Linked DNA regions of Homo sapiens: region 1 is linked to region 2. A link means that fine-mapping ties the variant in region 2 to the expression of a gene that starts in the linked region. Tissue or cell type: whole blood. Region 2 holds a variant in brackets; the other region holds the start of a gene. All regions are shown on one strand. Distances are from middle to middle.

Evidence for each region.
Region 1: it holds the start of MCM9, and the variant in region 2 is fine-mapped to the expression of MCM9 in whole blood (INTERVAL, PIP above 0.99).

What each region holds. Positions count from the first base shown.
Region 1 is chr6:118,933,321-118,936,243 of GRCh38, forward strand. It overlaps MCM9 (minichromosome maintenance 9 homologous recombination repair factor), which reads right to left and starts at 1,839. Exons shown (of 14, transcript NM_017696.3): 1 at 1,571-1,839. It overlaps LOC124901389 (a long non-coding RNA gene), which reads left to right and starts at 1,595. Exons shown (of 2, transcript XR_007059729.1): 1 at 1,595-1,670. RefSeq lists silencers at 1,088-1,337, 1,588-2,017.
Region 2 is chr6:118,866,716-118,869,638 of GRCh38, forward strand. All of the region lies in intron 8 of MCM9 (minichromosome maintenance 9 homologous recombination repair factor), which reads right to left. Among named protein-coding and RNA genes, the nearest start is that of ASF1A, 26 kb to the right of the region's middle. The variant C/CTTT (reference allele first, on the strand shown) is at 1,164.

The DNA of each region.
Region 1 (2,923 bases), 67 kb after region 2:
AATCCCGTTCTCTACTAAAAAAAAATACAAAAAAAATTAGCTGGGCGTGGTGGCAGGTGCCTGAAGTCCCAGCTACTCAGGAGGCTGAGGCAGGAGAATGGCGTGAACCCGGGAGGCGGAGCTTGCAGTGAGCCGAGACCACGCCACTGCACTCCAGCCCGGGCACAGAGCGAGACTCCGCCTCAAAAAAAAAAAAAAAGAGAGAAACACTTATTTCGTTTGGAAAGAGATTGAGGACTGGAGAAGAGGTGTACTTAAATTTGACTTACTTCATTTGTCCAACATTTATTGTACTGGACTCTACAAATACGAATATTAAAGGAGACTGCTATAAAGTTCACAGTTTATCATCCTAAGTACGTGTTATACACGCTATTTGCTATATTTTGCTTTCTCTGAGAACCTACTATTCCGCAAGGTGTGAAACGTTTAAGAAGTACATATAGCAGTTAGGTCAAGAATCCTGACCACTATAGGAGGCCAGAGTGAGAGTAAGAATGAGTAAATGTATATCCAAAACAATGAGTGGAAATAAATTACGGCCTCCACGGTAATTTGTTTTTGGTTAAGCAATATAAATTCAGCCAAGTGTAAAGCAGAAAAAGCACTTGGGAAGGAATATCTCCACAATGTGGACTTTGCCCAAAAAAAAAAAAAAAAAAATCTGGACTCCCAACAGTGGCTACAAGAGAATCACTATGATTCTATTAAAGCATATTAAGTTTAGAGCCACAAATTTAGCAATTTGAAAAACAGCTCCACACAAGGCAGGAAAAGGGCAGCAGCAGAATTCAACGTTCAAATTAAGGTCAGATTAAATTTTGCCTAGTTAGGCTAGCATTTCTATGGTTATATGGACCATCGTTATTCATTCCCTTTCAACATCTATGCAAAACTGACTAATCAACTGTGTTATCAGCAGTTTGCTAAATCAATAAACGTACCTACTACCCACCCAGATAGACACTGGAGGGACTTTTTGTTTTGAGAAGGGTCATTTCACAACTTTCAAGTTCTCTTTCCTTTTCTTATTGAATATTTGGGGTCAAAATAAAATCATTTGCTTTACTTTGTCCTCTTGACCACAGCGAAGCGTCGAAAAGAAGACAGGAGAGTGCCTAACTGCACTGGCATCCCCCAGCTGTCTCCGGGAATCGCGGCAGCCCCGCCCCGCCCGCCTGCACCTGCCGGGAGCCCCGCCCCCTCCGCGCGGGCTGGCGGGACGCGCGCCCTCGGCCCCGCCCCACTCCCTCCGCCCCTCTCACTGCGGGGGCGCGCCATTTCGCGCCTCCGGGCCGCTCGGCTGCCCCAGGGGCGCCTGGCAAACGTGGAGTCGCTCGGTTTTGGAGGCATGCTTTCCAAACTTTCTAATTCACAGGGTCTTTGCACGCAGCCCCTGCCCCACAACACCTTGGCAGTCTCTGAGACTTCTGGGGCTCTTCTCCCGGGCAGCTCCCGTGCCTGTCCGGTCCCGGAGTTGAATAGTTTTTGAAGTAATGAGACGGGAACGAGACTTGGGACGAACTGGAGAAAAACATAACCGCGAAAGGAGGAGGCGGCTATCACTTACTGGCTGTGTCAGAAGTCGCCGGGAACGCGTTGCTCCCGAGGCCGAAGGGCCCAGAGAGCTCCAGCCAGGCAGCGGGTTCGTCTCCGGCGCAAGAAGGCTGGTGAGGCGGAGTGCGCGCGTGCACGTGGCCGCTCGAGGCGCCACCGGCCGCGGGGACGCGCGGGCTGTGTCGGGCGGCCTAGCGCCTGCGGCTCTGCCGGGCCTGCGCTCTCGACCGACGCCGGGCCGCGCACCGCCTCAACTTCCCTGCCCCGGCGGCTCTTCCGGATGGAGACGAGGCAGCGGGGCGGGGTGGAGCGGAGCGGGCGGATTGGGGCGGAGCCAGGAGGGTCCCGGGCGGGGAGAGGGGCGGGACCCGAGCAGTGACCTCAGGCTAAGTGGCCAGAGCAGGGTTGTGCGGCGGCTCAGATCGGATCTTAGGGTTTGTTTTTTGTCTGTCCAAGGAATTTGCCTAACCCAAGGCCACAGAGGATCTCTTCTGTGTTTTCTGACACAAGTTTTAGAATTTTAGGTTTTATATTGAGGTCTGTGATCCAATTAGAGCTAATTTTTGTCTGTGGTGCAAAGTATGGATCTTAGGTCATTTTTTTGTATGTGAATAGTGTCATTTGTTTAGAGAGCTTTCTTTTTCTCACTGAATAGCTTTTGCACCTATGTTTAAAATCAGTTGTCCCTAAAGCATCAGTTGTGGGTCTATTCTTAGACTTTCTATTCTGTTCCGACAATTTATTATATTTCTCTCTACAAAAATACCACATTGTCTTGATTCCTGTAGATTCGTAAGAGTCTTAAAATCAGATCGTGTTTGGCCTCCAATTTTTTGTTATTTTTCAAAAATGTTCTGGCTCATCTAGTCCCTTGGGTTTTCATATGAATGTTAAAATCAGCTTGTCACTTTAAAAAGTTGGGATTGTGATTGGTTACATTTCGTCTATAGATCCATGTAAGAATAATTTACATGTTAACAATATTTAGTAATGACCCTTAAAGTAAGCCTCTTCATTTATTTAGGTGTTATTTCACTCAGCAAATGTTTTGATCTTTTGTCAGGTCTAGTCTTATATAGTCCATTTTCACAGTGCTAATAAAGACATACCTGGGACTGAGTAATTTATAAAGGAAAGACGTTTAATTGACTTACAGTTCAGCATGGCTGGGGAGACTTCAGGAAACTTAAAATCATGGCAGAAGCGGGAGCAAACCTCCTTCTTCACAGGGCTGCAGGAAGGAGAAGTGAGGAGCAAGGAGGGAAAAGCCCCTTAGAAAACCATCAGATCTTGTGATACCTCACTCACTATCAGAGAACAGCATGGGAATAACCACCCCCATGATTCAGTTACCTCCCACCGGGTC
Region 2 (2,923 bases):
TATTGGCATGCCAGAAGGAGAAGAGAAAGGGATAGAAAACACATCCAAAGAAGTAATGGCAGAAAACTTCCCAAGCCTGGGTAAGAAGATAGAAAGCCAGAGACAGGAAGCCCAAACAATACCAAATAAGATGAATCCAAAGAAACCTATGCCAAGACAATCACAATAAAATTATAAAAAGTTAAAACACAGAGTGTTGAAAGCAGTAAAGTAAAAGCAAATCATCACATACAAAAGAACCTTCTCATAAGACTATCAGTGGATTTCTCAAGAGCAACCTTGCAGGTCAGAAGAGAGTGAGATGATACATTCAACATCCTAAAAGGAAAAAAAAAAACCCCATCAACCAATAACTCTATACTCAGCAATTCAGTCTTTTAAAAAAAGGGGGTGATAAAGACTTTCTCAAACAAAAAGTTTAAGCATTTGCCACCATTAGACCTCTTTTACAAAAAAAACGCTAAAGGGAGTTTTTCATGCTGAAGGAAGAAGACACTATTAGTAACATGAAGACATAAGAGAGTATAGTCATGTGCTACATAATGACATCAACAGTGGTCCCATAAAATTATAATGGAGCTGAAAAACTCATATTGCCTAGTGATGGTGATGTCCATTATAACGCTGTAACACAAAGCATTACTTGTGTTTGTGGTGATGCTGGTGTAAACAAATGTACTGCTCCGTTAGTCATATAAAAGTGTACAGTAATGTTCTAAGCCCTTATATTCACTCACTACTCACTCACTGACTAATCCAGCGCAACTTCCAGTCCTGGAAGCTTCATTCACAATAAGTACCCTATGCAATTTTATACGGCAATTTTACTGTATATTTTATATATTTAGATATGTTTAGATACACAATTACTTATCATTGTGTCACAAACTGCCTATAGTATTCCATACAGTAACATGCTGTACAGGTTTGTAGCCTAAGAGCAAAAGAGTATACCATGTAGACTAGGTGTATAGTAGATTATACCATCTAGGGTTGTGTAAATACACTCAATGATGTTCATACAATGACAAAATCACCTAATAATGCATTTCTCAGAATGTATCCCCATTGTAAAGTGATATATGACTGTATATTGTCAAATCCAAAATACTCTAGTAATACAATGGGGTTGGGTAAATTAATTATATTTCTTTTTTCTTTTT[C/CTTT]TTTTTCTTTTTTTTTGAGATGAAGTCTCACTCTGGTGCCCAGGCTGGAATGCAATGGTGTGATCTCAGCTCACTGCAACCTCCACCTCCTGGGTTCAAGCAATTCTCCTTCCTCAGCCTCCAGAGTAGTTGGGACTACAGGCACGTGCCACCACGTCTGGCTAATTTTTGTATTTTTAGTAGAGACGGGGTTTCACCATGTTGGCCAGGCTCGTCTTGAACTCCTGACCTTGTGATCCACCCACCTCGGCCTCCCAAAGTGCTGGGATTACAGGTGTGAGCCACTGCACTCAGCCAATTAATTATATTTCTAATAAAAAGGTTAAACTGTTAAAAGAACTAAAGCTACAATAATTTTTAAGGAATGCAAATTATAAAAAGACAAAGTATGACATCAAAAATACAAAATGTGTGAGGAGGAAAAATAAAAGTGTAGACTTTGTGTATGTGATAAAAATTAAGGTGTCATCCATAGGCATGGGCAAGGACTTCATGACTTAAATACCAAAAGCAATGGCAACGAAAGCCAAAATAGACAAATGGGATCTAATTAAACTAAAGAGCTTCTGCGTGGCAAAAGAAACTACCCTCAGAGTGAACAGGCAACCTACAGAATGGGAGAAAATTTTTGCAATCTACCCATCTGACAAAGGGCTAATATCCAGAATCTACAAAGAACTCAAACAAATTTAAAAGAAAAAAAAACCCCATCAAAAAGCGGGCAAAGGATATGAACAGACACTTCTCAAAAGAAGACATCTATGCAGCCAACAGATACATGAAAAAATGCTCATCATCACTGGTCATTAGAGAAATGCAAATGAAAACCACAATGAGATACCATCTCACGCCAGCTAGAATGGCAATCATTAAAAAGTCAGGAAATAACAGATGCTGGAGAGGATGTGGAGAAATAGGAATGCTTTTACACTGTTTGTGGGTGTATAAATTAGTTCAATCATTGTGGAAGACAGTGTGGTGATTCCTCAAGGATCTAGAACTAGGATTATCATTTGACCCAGCAATCCCATTACTGGGTATATACCCAAAGGATTACAAATCATGCTACTATAAAGATACACACACGTATGTTTATGGCAGCATTATTCACAATAGCAAAGACTTGGAACCAACCCAAATGTCCATCAATGATAGACTGGATTAAGAAAATGTGGCACATATACACCATGGAATACTATGCAGCCATAAAAAAGGATGAGTTCACGTCCTTTGCAGGGACATGAAGCTGGAAACCATCATTCTCAGCAAACTATCAGAAGGACAGAAAACCAAACACCACATGTTCTCACTCATAGGTGGGAACTGAACAATGAGAACACTTGGACACAAGGTGGGGAACATCACACACCTGGGCCTATCTGGGGGTGGGGAACTGGGGGAAGGATAGCATTAGGAGAAATACCCAATGTAAATGATGAGTTGATGGGTGCAGCAAACCAACATGGTACATGTATACCTATGAATCAAACCTGCACGTTGTGCACATGTACCCTAGAACTTAAAGTATAATAATAAAAAAAATTAAGGTGTCATCAACTTAAAATGGCCTATTGTAAGTATATTTTCTGTAAGCCTCAGGGTAAACACAGAACAAACGCCTATAACAGATACACAAAAGAGAAAAGATCCAAAGCATACCAATATAGAAAGTCATCAAACCACAAAGAAGGCAAGAGAGGAAAAAGAAACAAAGGATTTACAAAAAAAAAAAAAAAAAAAAGAAGCCAATTTAAAAAATG